Regions from separate parts of the Homo sapiens genome. Here region 1 is linked to region 2. The links come from fine-mapping of genetic effects on gene expression. Tissue or cell type: whole blood. Region 2 holds a variant in brackets; the other region holds the start of a gene. All regions are shown on one strand. Distances are between the middles of the regions.

Evidence for each region. PIP is the estimated chance that this variant, and not a neighbour inherited with it, causes the effect.
Region 1: it holds the start of TNFRSF8, and the variant in region 2 is fine-mapped to the expression of TNFRSF8 in whole blood (TOPMed, PIP above 0.99).

The regions. Positions count from the first base shown.
Region 1 is chr1:12,059,101-12,067,196 of GRCh38, forward strand. TNFRSF8 (TNF receptor superfamily member 8) reads left to right here and starts at 4,203. Exons shown (of 15, transcript NM_001243.5): 1 at 4,203-4,561. The coding sequence starts at 4,499. RefSeq lists silencers at 3,646-3,878, 4,466-4,595.
Region 2 is chr1:12,122,259-12,130,361 of GRCh38, forward strand. TNFRSF8 (TNF receptor superfamily member 8) reads left to right here. Exons shown (of 15, transcript NM_001243.5): 9 at 1,026-1,119; 10 at 1,457-1,569; 11 at 3,693-3,794; 12 at 3,925-3,978. Among named protein-coding and RNA genes, the nearest start is that of MIR7846, 41 kb to the right of the region's middle. The variant TG/T (reference allele first, on the strand shown) is at 3,640.

The DNA of each region.
Region 1 (8,096 bases), 63 kb before region 2:
CTTGAGGTCAGGAGTTCAAGACCAGTCTGGCCAACATGGTGAAACCCTGTCTCTACTAAAAATACAAAAATCAGCTGAGTGCAGTGATGCTCGCCTGTAATCCCAGCTACTCGGGAGGCTAAGCATGAGAATCGCTTGAACCTGGGGAGGGGGAGGTTGTAGTGAGCCGAGATTGCACCACTGCTCTCCAGCCTGGGCAACAGAGTGAGACTCCATCTCAAAAAAAAAAAAAAAGAAAGAAAGAAAAGGTGCACCTGGACCTATTGAAGAAGAAAGGCCCCAGCCTCCCCTCTCTGATTTCCAGCCTCCTACCTGCCAGCTGCTGCCTGGGCCAGAAAGAACCCTTTATCTGCTAAGGGTATTTTGGGGCCATTTGGGACTCGGGTTCCCAGCTGTTGGAGGAAGTCCCTGAATTTCCTGAACCAAGTTGGGACCTTGTGTCTTGCTCAGCATCACTTTGGGGACACAGATTCCCAATTCCCCTTGGATGGCTTCCTACTGCATTCACCTTCCTCACCTTTCCTCCAAGAAGCCCACCGAGCTGAGACTGTGTGAGCAAGCGCTCCTCGCTCCCCAGTCTCCTGTAGCCCCTCGGGCTTGGCTTCCTTCCACAGCTTGCTCTGGAGGGCCCCACGACCCCACAACAAGGACTGCTGCTGTGCCTTGCACAGAGCCTAGGGACTTCCCCTTCTACTCTTCACAGCACTTTCATACCACCTGAAACCTGCCGAGGGCACCCGGGGGCTCTATCCACTGCCTGCTTTTAAGAGTCCCATGAATGGCTGTTTTCCTTGGTTGCTACCAGCCCATCTCCCCCTGGGATCCAGCTGGCTCCCTGGCCACAAAATGTGCCTTCCCTCCACTTAAGCCATGTGTCAGCTACTTTCCTGGGCGCCCTGGGGGAATTCTGGTTCTCAGGAGTACACAGTTTCCTGGGGCAGAGGGATGCATGAACCAGTCATTATGGTTATGACATGATGAGATCAGATCTAGAATTGCGGCACAAAAAATGACAGAAACCACTTTTTGACTGGGAAGAGGGCTGGGGGACAGGAGACACTGCCAGGAAAGCAACAAGGAGGAGGTGGCATTGGAACAGGTTAGGAAGATGATCAGGAGTCTGTGTGCGTCCCAGGTGGAGGCCAGCGTGGGCAAAGGCTGGCAGGGGTGAGAAGGCTGCACATTTGGCTGGAGTATAGGTCCAGGAGAAGTAAAAAGGCACAAGGGAGGAGTCAGCCCCTGCCAGGCTGTGAGCAGACTTGTGCACCCTTGCATTTGGGTGACTCTGACCCAGGGGAGCCACTGCAGGGGTTCCTTTCCTGCAGAATGGGCATAAAAGTAGGACCTTGTTCATGGGGTTTTCATGAGGATACAAGAAACCAATGCCTGAAAACTCTTAGCACAAAATAAGCACTCAAAGGTAGCTGTTATTGTTATCATTAAATGAATAATATAATTTTCTACGTGGTCCTCTGCCAAAACACACACCATACTTCCGCAAGGGTTCTCTACAGGGGAGTGTCTTGGTGAGATGTGTGTGCTAGAAAGGTCTCTTTGGAAATCCATGGAGGGAAGGATATGAGGGAGAGACAAGTTTCCACAACATCTATAGATTTATCCTTTTTAATGGATGTGCAATATTCCATTAAATGGATGTACCACAATTTCCGTAATCATTTCTTGTTGTGAATCTCAGAGTATTTCAAAAATTTATAAATAATATATAAGGAAATGTTACTGTATAGTTTTCTTTTTTCTTTTTCTAGTTTTCCAGTTAAATTATTTCCTTAGTTTTTCTTCACTGAGGTGAAATTACTGAGCCACTCACAAGTAGTACACATTTTTTTTTTTTTTTGGCTTTTGCTAAAAATTGCCATACTGCTTTCTGAAAAGGGTTGTAACATTTACCAGCAGAGTATGAATGAGTATTCTGGTCTCACCACAACTTTGGGGTTGGATTTACCAAAATTGTTTTTATAAAGCAAAAAAAAAAAAATGATGATTGTATAGATCTAAAAGGTTATCAAAGGTTGCTTGAATTTGCATTTCTTTAATTACTAAAAAGGTTAAACTTATAAAACTTGTAATTGATTTTTATTTGTATTTCTCCTTGTGCAAGCTATTTTGATGCTGTTGTTCATTTATTTATTCAAAACACCAGCCCTTCTCTCTCTCTCTTTTTTAATTAAACAAAAAATAGAGATGAGGTCTTGCTACGTTACCCGGGCTGGTCTCAAACTGGGCTCAAGTGATCCTCCAACCTCGGCCTCCCAAAGTGTTGGGATTACAGATATGAGCCATGTCACCCAGCTGCCAGCTTTTCTACTTTTGTAGTAGAAAGCTCTGGACTGGGAAGCAGGTGTCTTGCGTTCCTCCTGTCCCTGTCTGGTTCTGTCATTATCACAGGCAGGTCACTTCCATAATTGCTTACCTCATTGTTTAACATAGTCCCAGCTCAAACAGCCTAAGATACTGGGCCTGGTACATCCAGAGGAGAGTCTGGAAGTGGGTCTCTTGGGAAGGGGCATGATGGAGCAGTTTTCCCAAGTGGAGTCCAGCAGCCCCAGGAGGGTTGAGCATGGAGTGGTCAGTTGTGGAGACCTTGCTGGGAAGTTCCTGGTGGGAGGTTATCACTCCTACCCTATAGGGCCTTCACCTGATGGAGGCCTGGTACCTCGCAGGACAGATCAAGGTAGACACAGAAGCCAGAGTATCCTTAGGCTATTCTGGGCTCAGGGAAAATAACTGGCCCACCCTTAATTAGAGCACCTAGGACTGCCTGCCTATTTCTGAGCCTTGGCTTTCACATCTGAAAACCAAACAAAATCAGTCAAAAGAACCCTTGACCTGTGGCCCACCCAGCAGATGCTCAACACAGACACACGGAATGTGGAATAAAAGGAGCAAAGAGAAAACCCAGGGGATGGGGAAGCACTGGAAGGGAAAATCATTCACCAGCAAATGAGAACATAGTACGAGGAGGCTTGAATCATTTCTGTTAGGAGAGAGTGCCAGCCGCCTCCTCCAGGAAGAAAACTCTAAAGGGTCAGGCCTCAGGGAAATAAAATGATCTATACCATCCATCAGTTCCTCCAACATTCAGTCCATCCATCTACCAATCCACCCACCCATTTACCCACTCACCTGCTGCTCATCCATCCATCCATCCATCCACCTATGCATCCATCCATCCATCCATCTATGCATCCATCCATCCACCCATCCACCCACCCATTTACCCACTCACCTGCTGCTCACCCATCCATCCATCCATCCATCCATCCATCCATCCATCCATCCACTTATGCATCCATCCATCCACTTATGCATCCATCCATCCATCCATCCATCCATCCATCCATCCATCCACCTATGCATCCATCCATCCATCCATCCATCCATCCATCCATCCATCCATCCATCCACTTATGCATCCATCCATCCATCCATCCATCCATCCATCCACCTATGCATCCATCCATCCATCCATCTATGCATCCATCCATCCACCCATCCACCCACCCATTTACCCACTCACCTGCTGCTCACCCATCCATCCATCCATCCATCCATCCACTTATGCATCCATCCATCCATCCATCCATCCATCCACTTATGCATCCATCCATCCATCCATCCATCCATCCATCCATCCATCCATCCACCTATGCATCCATCCATCCATCCATCCATCCATCCATCCATCCATCCATCCACTTATGCATCCATCCATCCATCCATCCATCCATCCATCCATCCATCCATCCACCTATGCATCCATCCATCCATCCATCCATCCACCAATTTATCATCCACTCACTGATTCATTTTACAGCAAATGCTTATGAATGGGGATGGGTGGGTGATGGTTGCTTTTTCTGCAGTCTCCCTAGGCCAGTTGTCCCTTCCAAAGAATCTCAAGGGCATGGGAGAAGGTCCTGGCTGATCGTGTCAGGGACAGGAAACTACTCACATTTCACCGTTTCTTGGGGCAGGAGTGGAGGTGGGGGCATTGGAACCCCCTTGGGGCCTCCTAATATCCTGTGAGTCCCCACCTCCAGGGCCAGAAGCTGCCTGCCTCCGCTCCCCGCAGCCCAGGTGCGGCGGGCAGCACACTCCCTAGAGCCAGGACCACTAGTTCCGTCAAATCCGGGGCGGGCCATTCAAACAGCTAAGGGAGGCGTCTCCTAGTGTGCCTTTTCCTGAGTCATCTCTGCACGTGTTTGCCCCCTTTTTTCTTCGCTGCTTGTAGCTAAGTGTTCCTGGAACCAATTTGATACGGGAGAACTAAGGCTGAAACCTCGGAGGAACAACCACTTTTGAAGTGACTTCGCGGCGTGCGTTGGGTGCGGACTAGGTGGCCGCGGCGGGAGTGTGCTGGAGCCTGAAGTCCACGCGCGCGGCTGAGAACCGCCGGGACCGCACGTGGGCGCCGCGCGCTTCCCCCGCTTCCCAGGTGGGCGCCGGCCGCCAGGCCACCTCACGTCCGGCCCCGGGGATGCGCGTCCTCCTCGCCGCGCTGGGACTGCTGTTCCTGGGGGCGCTACGAGCCTTCCCACAGGTAAGCGGGTGACGGGCGCCTGGGGAGGTGCCGGCGGTCCAGAGCCCGGACAGTGTGGGGTGCGTGGGACGCAAGGGAGGACACTCCTCACCCCGTTCCCTGCCCAGCTGGAGTGAGGGGGCGCGGGTGACAAGCAGGAACACCGGAATATGCTAGCACCCACAGGTGGGAGGCTGGCTGAAGGGCTAGTGGTGGGGGGCGCCTCCTTCTCACCCCGCGATGGCTGGGACTGATTCATTCATTCAGTGTGAATTGGACTGAGAGCACTGCCATACGCGGGAGGCGCTCTTTAGCCCGCCTACCTGCGGGCCCGTCGGGGTCCTGGGCAGATCAGGTGAGGCCGTGGGAGTAGTGGGCAGGCCAGATGGGGCCTCCCTTAGCCATGGGAGGTTGGTCGTCCGCGCTCTACCCTGTTGTGTGCGCGGTCCCGTTTGCCCCCTTCCTAAGCTGGCCACTGGCTGGAGGGTCAAGGAAAGGAGGGAGAGTTGGCTGTGGGTGAGAGTGGGGTGAGGGTGCAGGACCACCGGGATTAGCTTCCCCAATCCGCGTCCGGCAAAGCAACGCTGTGGATTGAATTCGCTGGAGCACGTGGTGGGCATTTGCCCCTGGAAGAAGGTCAGTGGTGGGGCTGAAGTCTATGGTGGGTTGCCTCAGAATTGAGTTTGGGGACTGCTTTAGGAAAACTGAGCACTTACCAGTGGCCAGCGCCAAATTAATCACTGTGGGGAGAATGCAAAGTAACCAGGCGTGTTTCACGGAGCCCAGGGGCTGCTGGAGAGAGAGGCCCTCAGCTGACCCAGGACCCCGGTGGACCCCTGCATAGAACCATAGTAGGTGCGAGTGGATGCCTGCTGAATGATACAGAGGGAAAGGAAGGAGCAGGCTGTTAGTCCAGCGGTGGGTCACGGTGGGGGAGAGGGAAGACCCAGTTCCCCTTTAATCCTACAGGAAGAGAGGACTCCATGCTATGGATCAATTCTAGTCATCTGAACCTTAGGCAGTGGGAGGAGAGTGGCAGAGTGGGCTTTAGGCAGGAGGGAGGAACTATGCAGCAAAGGAGGAACTATGCCCTCTTCCATTTCCAATGGGCAATGTGAGGTATTCCCCCTTTCCCCCCAAGAGGGCAGAGGGGACAAAGCCCTGGCTAGAGACACCCTGTCCCAGCTCTGCAAGCCCTCACCTGGGGGAAGGTAAGAGTTTGGAGTGCCAAGGTCTTGGGGAGATGAAGGGAAGGAAGAGATGTGAGAGGTGCTTGGGGGGCTTTGCTGGTTTGGTTTGGCAGCTGAAGCTCATGTGCTTCCTTTCTGTAGAGTGAAGCCCCCTCCACTTTTTTTAATGTTAGAGACAGGGTCTCACTCTGTTGTCCAGGCTGGAGTGCGATCATAACTCACTACAGCCTGAACTCTCATACCAAACCTTTTTTTTTTTTTTTTTTTTTTGAGACTGAGTCTCACTCTTGTTGCCCATGCTGGAGTGCAATGCTCGATCTCGGCTCACTGCAACCTCTGCCTCCCGGATTCAAGTGATTCTCCTGCCTCAGCCTCCCAGGTAGCTGGGATTACAGGCATGTGCCACCACACCCGGCTAATTTTTGTATTTTTAGTAAAGATGAGGTTTCACCATGTTGGTCAGTCTGGTCTCGAACTCCTGACCTCAAGTGATCCTTCCGTCTCGGCCTCCCAAAGTGCTAGGGTTACAGGCATGAGCCACCACACCCAGCCTCCCATACCCTTTTTAAAATAAAAATACTATATATTTAATTGCACAAGGAATATATAAATATATTCTCAAAGCAAAACTGTAAACGCTACAGATAAAGCCAAGTCTTTTGACACCGCCTCATCCTGATCCCTTCAAAGATATAACCACCATAATTGATTTGGTGTGTTTCCTTTGCAGACCTTTATAAATGCATGTCCATATTTATATTGTTTTAATAGACATATATATAGTTTTCCATATACTATACCCTACAGTACATATGGTTCTTCATTTGGCTTTATAATGTCTATGAGGCATCTTGGTGAGCTTTCCATGCTGAAACTTACAGATCCTCTGCCTATCTTTTAAAATGCTATGTGATCTTTTGCCAAATGGGATGTTTCATAGTTTATTTATGTCCTGGATGGATGGGTGCTAAGGTTGCCACCATTGTTCTTTCTTTCTTTCTTTGTTCTCTACTACAGTGCACAGCCCTATATGGATGCTTTTGGAAATAAATGTCTGTGATTCTTTCCTAGACAAGAGACTGAGAAGAGAATACTGAGGTTGCAGGGCGAAAATGCATTCAAATTAAAAGACACCACCGAACTGCCTTCCAGGGTGGCTGGACAATTTACCCTCCCGCTAGCAGTGCAAGAGAGTAGTAACTTTCCCACATCCTAACCGACATTTGATCTTATCAGCATTTTAATTTTTCTCAATGTGATTAGTGAAAAGGGTTATATCCTTGTTGCCTTAATTTGCATTTCTCGCCTACCGGGGAAGCTGAGCATCTCTCTGGGCTCAGGCACTAGGTCATTTCTTGGCAGGAGTCAGGGAGTCCTTGGGGAAGGGACTACCTGCCCAACACAGTACTCCTTTTTGCCCCTCAAGCCTTCTCCCACTTCTGTTTTTTCCAGTAAAGGTTCGGGAAGCTCGTTATTTTAAAAAAAAAATCCCAAATTAGGGCTTGAATTTCCTTGAGTTTAAAATTTTTTTTTTTTTTTTTGAGATGAAGTCTCCCTCAGCTGCCCAGGCTGGAGTGCAGTGGCACGATCTTGGCTCACTGCAACCACCCTCTCCCAGGTTCAAGTGATTCTACCGTCTCAGCCTCCCTAGTAGCTTGGATTACAGGCACTTGCCATCATGCCTGGCTAATTTTTGTATTTTAGTAGAGATGGGGTTTCATAATGTTGGCCAGGCTGGTCTTGAACTCCTGACCTCAGGAGATCCATCCACCTCGGCATCCCAAAGTGCTGGGATTACAGGCGTGAGCCACCGCCCCCGGCCTAAATTTTTTTTTATTTTTTGGGACAGTCTCACTTTGTCTCCCAGGCTGGAGTGCAGTGGCGCAATCTCAGCTCACTGCAACCTCTGCCTCCTGGGTTCAAGTGATTCTCCTGCCTCAGCCTCCTGAATAGCTGGGATTATAGGTGCCTGCCACCTCACCCAGCTAATTTTTGTATTTTTAGTAGAGATGGGGTTTCGTCATGTTGGTCAGGCTGGTCTCGAGCTCCTGGCCTCAAGTGATCCTCCCACCTCGGCATCCCAAAGTGCTGGGATTACAGGCGTGAGCCACCGTGCCCATCCTGAAGTTCTTTTTTCATCTCTATTTGATTTTTCCCAAGACGCCATCATTTTTCGCCTGGTATTCTGAGGCAGGAATGCTTTCTTGCTAGCTGGCACCATCTGAGAGTTGGCCTCTGATGCTTCGTATCACTGTCTTGTCCAATTGTGTTTTTTTGTAATATGACCCAGGATTAACTGGTGCATATCTGCAGAGAAAAATTTATTCCCCCATAGCTCCATCCTTTTCATCCAGGCACCATGTGGT
Region 2 (8,103 bases):
GAGCTCAAGTGATCTGCCTGCTTCAGCCTCCCAAAGTGCTGGGATTACAGGCGGGAGCCACCCTACCCTGCCAGGGGATACTTTCTTGTATATAAATGTTGCCTTAGGCTGGGCATGGTGGCTCACGCCTACGATCCCAGCACTTTGGGAGGCTGAGGTGGGCGGATCACTTGAGGTCAGGAGTTCGAGACCAGCCTGGTCAACATGGTGAAACCCTGTTTCTACTAAAAATACAAAAATTAGCTGGGCATGTTGGCAGGCACCTGTAATCCCAGCTACTCAGGAGGCTGAGGCAGGAGAATCACTTGAATCCGGGAGGCAGAAGTTGCAATGAGCTGAGATCGTGCCACTGCACTCCAGTCTGGGCAGCAGAGGAAGACTCAATCTCAAAAAATTAAACATAAATAAATAAATAATTCCTTAATAAAGTTGATTTAAAAGAAAAAAACTTTAAAAATTGAGGCTGTATTTAAACATTAGGCGATTTCAGTTTTCTCTTAAAAGCAAAAGGTCTAGCGTCACTGTTTCACCTTCCTGGGTGACCACAGCTGTTAGAGACAAGTAGCAACTTCTCCACTTTGTTTTATTTATTTTGAGTCTTTCTCTGTCGCCCAGGCTGGAGTGCAGTGGCATGATCTCAGCTCACTGCAGCCTCCACCTCCCGGGTTCAAACGATTCTCCTGCCTCAGCCTCCTGAGTAGCTAGGATTACAGGTGTGTGCCATCACACCTGGCTAATTTTTGTGTTTTTAGTAGAGATGGGGTTTCACCGTGTTGGTCAGGCTGGTCTCGAACTCCTGACCTCAAGTGGTCCTCCTGCCTCAGCCTCCCAAAATGCTGTGATTACAGGTGTGAGCCAATGTGCCTGGCCAGCTTTTCCACTTTGATCTTTTGAAACACAAATCTGACTGTCTTAGCTCCCACGGTGTTGCCTCGCTGGAAGCCACCAGTCCCTGCTGGTTAACTCTTTCCTGGAGACACCAGCCTCCTTGGCGCTGGTTCTCAGATGTTACGTCCCCTCTGCAGATATGGCTGAGAAGGACACCACCTTTGAGGCGCCACCCCTGGGGACCCAGCCGGACTGCAACCCCACCCCAGAGAATGGCGAGGCGCCTGCCAGGTGACTCCCCCACCCCTTCTCTCTGTTTGGCTGCTGCAGGAGGGAGCTGTCCCTGCCATGCCCAGGGGATGCCTGGGAGGCAGCTGGGCTGGGGGTGGAGGTGGGGCCTGGGCTGCTCTTTTGTTAAATGTGTGCCCATCTCTTTGCTGACACCATTGGAAAGCCAGAAGGCCTTGAAACCCAGTCCCTGCCCTCAAAATGCCTGGCAGAGACTCGGGGCAGAGGATCTAGGGGCCCAGGCTCTGGTTGCGCAGTCTCCAGAGAAAGGGAATTATTCCTGAAGACCCACTTCCCTCTTCCCATCTTCATCACTCCTGCCTTGGGCTTCTCCCCGCAGCACCAGCCCCACTCAGAGCTTGCTGGTGGACTCCCAGGCCAGTAAGACGCTGCCCATCCCAACCAGCGCTCCCGTCGCTCTCTCCTCCACGGGGAAGCCCGTTCTGGATGCAGGTAATGGTCCCAGCCCACTCACCCCTACTCCCAGCAGGGGCTTCCTCCTGGGGAAGTGTGGATTGGGGGAGCCAGGAGGGAGCTTCTCCTTTGTGGGTATGGTCTGAGAAGGGGGATTAAGGTTGACCCCAGGTTTCTGGCTTCTTGAGTTGGTGCTGTGGCTCTGGCACTTGCTAGTGACTATTCTTTTCTTTTTGAAACAGTCTCACTCTGTTGCTCAGGCTGGAGGGCAGTGGCACCCATCTTGGCTCACTGCAACCTCCACCTCCCAGGTTCAAGAGATTCTCCTGTCTCAGCCTCCCGAGTAGCTGGGTTTACAGGCGCTTGCCACCACGCCTGGCTAAATTTTTTTTTAATTTTTAGTAGAGACGGGGTTTTGCCATGTTGTCCAGGTTGGTCTCAAACTCCTGACCTCAGGTGATCCACCTGCTTCAGCCTCCCAAAGTGCTAGGATTATAGGTGTGAACCACTGCGCCTGGCTGCTAGTGACTATTCTTTAATTCTTGTAGGCAGGAATTTTTTTCACAGCTTCATCCTCGTGGCTTATAATTGCTACTCAGAAAATAGGTCTTTGTTGATTGATTTCATGACTTTGACTAGTTGTTCGAGCCTTTGAGCCTCAGTTGTCTCATCTATACAATGGTAATGGCAGAGACCGTGCAGGGTTATAAGCAGTGTAGCATTGTAGACGGCCTCTGTCAGAGTTAGCTCTTAGGCTGGACGCGGTGGCTCACGCCTGTAATCCCAGCACTTTGGGAGGCCAAGGTGGGTGGATCACGAGGTCAGGAGTTTGAGACCAGCCTGGCCAACACGATGAAACCACATCTCTACTAAAAATACAAAAATTAGCCAGGCGTGGTGGCGCGCGCCTGTAATCCCAGCTACTCAGGAGGCTGAGGCAGGAGAATCGCTTGAACCCGGGAGGCGGAGGTTGCAAGGTTGCAGTGAGCCGAGATTGCACCGCTGCACTCCAGCCTGAGCAGCAGAATGAGAATCAGTCTCAAACAAAACAAAACAAAACAAAACAAAACAAAACAAAACAAAACAAAACAAACAAAACCCCCAAGAGTTAGCTCTTAGGGAAAGATGCCAGGTTACTCATTTTAGGACTTGCAGTTCTAGTGGCTGACACGAGGTGGCAGTAGTGCTCCGGCCAGAGTTTCTGAAAGTGCGGTCCCGTCTGGCAGCATTGGCACCGGCTGGGAACTTGTTAGGAAAGCAAATTATGGGCCCCATCCCAGACCTAGAGAATCAGAAACTGCACTTTAACAAGATCTCCAGGGCACTCATGTGCACATTAACGTTTGAGAAGCACTTAACTGGCATATACTACTTTTTAAACATCTAAACATGGACTTCAATAAAGTGCAATCACTAGCTCTATGATCTCTGTAAGTGACAAAAGGGAAAAACGAAGCGAGTTTAGTACCGAGGTGTGAAGAAGTAGATCTAGATAGGGGTTAAGAGCGTGGCCCTGCAGTCCCCCCGGCCTGGCCTGGCCTGGGCTGGGGCTCTGCCACTTACTCTCAGGGTGACCTTGGGCAACTTAACGAACTTTCGTGAGCCTCAGCTCCCCTCATTTTTAAACTGAAGGTAGTGACGGTGCCTAGGGCATAGGGTTGGGGATCATTCATTCAGGGAACGCTTGTGGGGTGTGTTTATGTGCAGTGGGGACTCCATGCCTGCCCTCATCAAGCAGGTCTAGAGGGTTGGCCGGGAGGGGACTGGGTTCAACCTCTTCCTTCCCCTCACTGCTTGGCCCTCCCCACCCTGACTCCGGCCACACCAGCAGTGCTGCCAGATGCCGGTCACACCGGGCCCTCGTCCACAGTCCCCAAATTTTGGTCTATTGGACCTCAATTCCTTTGTTCTGGCTCCTAGACGCCTCAATTTCTCACTCTCTAGACACAGTTTGCCCTTCTCTCAGCCTTCAATAGTTGATCAGCTTCCTGGAGCCAGGCGAGGGAGGGCTGGATGAGATAAGAGCCTTGGCTTGGAAAGGACCTGTTGTTGTTAGCCATGATGGAAGCTGTGTCCCAGGAGAAGGAGGAAGTCGTCTGGGGCTGGGGC[TG/T]TCTTGTGTGGTTGCAGCAAGGCAAAGAGTGTGGGGCGTCTCTGTGTTCCAGGGCCAGTGCTCTTCTGGGTGATCCTGGTGTTGGTTGTGGTGGTCGGCTCCAGCGCCTTCCTCCTGTGCCACCGGAGGGCCTGCAGGAAGCGAATTCGGCAGAGTAAGTGGCTGTGTCCTTGGGGCCTTGGGGAGGACAGGTTGCTCTCTGCCAGCCTGGCCTGGGTTCTTTCCCTGCCTGCTCCTGCTCTCTGAGGCCGCCACCCCCAGCCTTCCTCCTGGTGTCGTTTCAGAGCTCCACCTGTGCTACCCGGTCCAGACCTCCCAGCCCAAGCTAGAGCTTGTGGGTGAGTGTCCAGCCGTCCAAAGGGGCTGCCCGAGCCAGAGGAACACAGGGCAGCTCTGGGCCCGGGGCGTGGGCTCCAGAGACTGAACTTCTACCCCAGCCTCGAAGCTCCCTGTCTGTGGCTCCTGTCGCATTCTGTACATCTGTAGGGATGCAATGTGGGTGAAAACTCATGCGTGTGGAGAATGCAATGAGGTGAAGACTGTACTGGGTGTGACGACTGTGTGGCTTGCCCAGAGCAGCACCTGGATGGATGCTGGCATGAACGTTTAAAAGTCTATCTTGTCTGTCACTTTTTCCTCCAGTACCCCCAGGGGGCATTCCTGCCAGCCTTGCCTTCCTCTCTACATTCTACCCTCCCTTTCTCCCTCTCCCTCCTTCTCTTTCTCTTTCCCCTCTCTCCCCCTCTTCTACCACCTGGCAAGTCAGCCCAGGGGCAGGAGGGGAAAGGAGCACATGGGGCAAGAGGGACCCTGGTTCTGCCACTTACAAGCTGTGTGACCCTGGGTGAGTTACTGAATTGTCCTGTGTCTCAGTTTCCTCATCCGGAAAATGCAGATGGTAGAATCTACTTCAGAGGCTTGGCCTGTGGATTCGTCGAGGTCGGGCTGTTAAGCGCATCGTGGAGTACCTGCCTGCAATCGGTGGCTGCTGCCTATTGACAGGCTGGCCTGTGCCTGGGGCTTTTTCCTTCCTGGAAGCTTCAGGCCTTCCTGAGTCCTGGGTGCTTCTGACCCCCTCCCTGGTCCCTGCACTCTGATCCCTGCCCAGCCTCTGGGCCAGCTCTTCCAGGCAGCCCTTGGGAGCTGGAACCCTCCTCACCTGTCCAGGCAGGGTCGTCTATACAGCGTGTGTCTTCTAGCTCTCACCTGGGGCAGGGGGCTCCCAGCTATCTTGTGCCAAGCACCTTCTCTCTCCTGGGCAGCCCCTTCAAGGCAGGCCAGGGTCTTCCTCAGCACTGCATGGCATGGATTGGGTGCCTGCTCTGTGCTGGGCTCTGATGGGGGAATCGTCTGAGCCTTCGTTTCTGATTTGCAAGGTGGGCTCCCATACAGGCTTCCTGTACTCCCCCAGTGATGACCTTTGTTCTGCAAGGAGGAGGCAGGGCTCAGCAAGGTGGACGGCTGGCCCAGGGCCACACAGCCTGGCAGTGGCACAGCCAGCCTCAGGCACTGGTCCTAGGGGTTTTGGTTTGTAAAGGGCTCAGCCCTGTCCCCTCTTCCTTCCCCCTGCCAGCTCTGTCCACCATCGCAATGCCTACCCAAGAGCCACGTGCTCAGCCTAAGGCCAGGCCCTGGCCCGTCCCCTGATCTCCCCAGGACCCTTGCAGAGGCCCTTGCATAGGCTGACTGTTGACTTGGGCACAAAAACACAGTCCACTGAGGCATGTTTTGAATTTGACGAGTTTCACAAGCAAGCACTGTGGTCCCTGTGCAAGGGGGGTTTTTGTGTTTTGATAGTTTCAAGCCTGTTTCCATGACCTGTCAGGCTGAGTGTCTCATTGAAACCGGCGTTTGCTTTCTTGACATTTTTCTAGTATTAGAATTTCCATTGCCGTCAGTTTATTTTTTTTCTTCAAACCTCTGTGAGAGCAGTTTTGTTACAGAAGAAAAAAAGAAAGAAAGAAAGAAAACACCTTCCCCTAAGAAGCCAGGTCTACAAAGAACTGAGCCCTGAGACTCAATGGTGGACATCTTATCTCAGGTCGTTTTTGACCCTCTAGCTTCTGGTGGGACCTTGGGGTCTGGGTTCCGAGGCTCAAGATGGACAGAAAGTGAAGCCAAGACAGGCAAGCTCACAGAGCACCGGGTGAGAATGGACCGAGCTGGCCGGATGCCCCTTTCCCTCCTGAGCCGTGGGTGGTGAAGGAGGGAAGGAGCACTGGTTTATTGGCACTGGTTTATTGGTTCGTTCATTCATCTATTCACATGGTCTTCACGGAGCACTTCCTCCTTGCAGGCTCTGTGCCGGGCCCAGAAGCTGTTCTAGCTCCCTCCAAGCTTTTAGACTAATTCCGACTGCCCGCAGAGGCCAAAGGCAGACGGGAGGGGAGTGTGCGCCCCTTGGCCTCCCACATCCCAGACCTGGGGCAGAGGGTGCTCTTGGTTCCTTTGAGCAGTGAGCACATCAGGGATCTGTGGTCCGTGCAGGTGCGATGAGAGGCCCACCAACCAGCCCTCGAGTGGATCGACCTTCCCGTGTGTGTCCTCGGTGACAGGCATTTGCAAAGCACACACGTGATCTCATCCACTCCTCCGGTGGCCTGTGAGGTACTTACTGTTATCCCCGTTGCACAGATTAGCAGCCTAAGGCACAGGATGGTGAAGTAATTCGTTTAAGGCCACGTGCTGGGTGAGCCGTAGGACGGGGATTTTATCGTGGTTGTTGAGATGTTTGTAAAAAGATTTTTCACCCTTGGCACCATTGACATTTGGGAATGGATGGTTCTTTGCTGTGGAGCGCTATCCTATAGGACGTTGTACAGCCCCTCTAGATGCCAGTAACCTTCCCTACTTGGGACAACCAAAAATGTCTCTAGACATTGCCATGTGGCCCCTGGGGAAAACCTCCTGGTTGAGAACCACTGGTCTAAAATTCTTTTTTTTTTTTTTTTTTTGAGACAGAGTCTCGCTCTGTCACCCAGGCTGGAGTGCACTGGTGCCATCTGGGTTCACTGCAACCTCCGCCTCACGGGTTCAAGTGATTCTCCTGCCTCAGCCTCCTGAGTAGCTGGGATTACAGGCTCCTGCCACCATGCCTGGCTAATTTTGGTATTTTTAGTAGAGACGGGGTTTCACCGTGTTGGCCAGGCTGGTCTCAAACTCCTGACCTCATGATCCGCCTGCCTCGGCCTCCCAAAGTGCTGGGTTTGCAGGCATGAGCCACCATGCCTGGCCTTAAAATTCTTTTAATCCTTCATTTTTATGAGCACTTGAGTCATTTTCTATTATTCCAGGGAGATTTAGGTTGAAAGAAATTCTTTTTTTGTTTTGAAACAGTTTCAAACTTATAGAAATGGTATAAGTATGAAGAATTCATTTTGACCTGAACCATTTGAGAGTAACTGACTGACTGGATGTCTCTCACCCCGAAAACTTCAGTGTGTGTTTCAGACAGACAAGGGTGTATTTTACACGATGTGGTAAGGATCGTCAGAATTGGAATTCACACTGATACATGACCCACAATGAATTCTCAGGCCCTGTTGAAGTTTCTTTATTTGTCCCAATAATGTCCTTTATAGCAGAGGACTCCAGCTCAGGGCCACGTGTTACATTTGCTTGTCTGGTTTCTCGAGTCTCCTTCTGTCCGGATCCGTTCCCCAGGCGTTTCTTTCACTTACTGGGAAGAGCGCAGGCTGGTGATTTCATGGATGCTCCTTGCTTTGGGTTTGTCTGGTGTTTTCTCCCGAGTGGATTCAGGTCATGCATCTTGGGCTGGAAGGTCCCAGGAATGATGCTGGCCTCTTCTCTCTCAGGGCGTCCTGCCAGGTTTCGATGTCTCCCTTTCCTGGTGCTGTGTACTTTGAGCGCTCGACGGAGGTGATGTCCTGCCGGGCCTCTCCACTGTGACGTCTCCATTTGCTCCTCGGTCATTACTAAGTCTTTAGGGGCGTTACTTGAGACTATGTCAATAGCCCATTCTTCAGCAGACCTTCATTTTCTCTATTTATTTGTTTATTTTTTTGAGACAGGGTCTGGCTCTGTCACCCAGGCTGGAGTGCAGTAGTGTGATCTCGGCTTACTGCAACCCCCGCCTCCTGGGTTCAAGCAATTCTCCTGCTTCAGCCTCCCAAGTGGCTGGGATTACAGGCGTGTGCCACACAATGCCTGGCTCATTTTTTGTATTTTCAGTAGAGACAGAGTTTCACCATGTTGGCCAGGCTGGTCTCGAACTCCTGGCCTCAAGTGGTCCTCCCGCCTCGGCCTCCCAAAGTTCAGGGATGACAGGCGTGAGCTGCCACCGCGCCCAGCCCAGAACTTAATTTTCTTCACTTACATATTTATATCTGTATGGATTCATGGGGCCCTGTTCTGTTCAATGGGTTGTAATCTCTTACCATCATTTTTTATTTTGGTGCTCAAATGGTCCCAGATGAGGTCAGGGAGAGCCCCTTTAAGCTGGC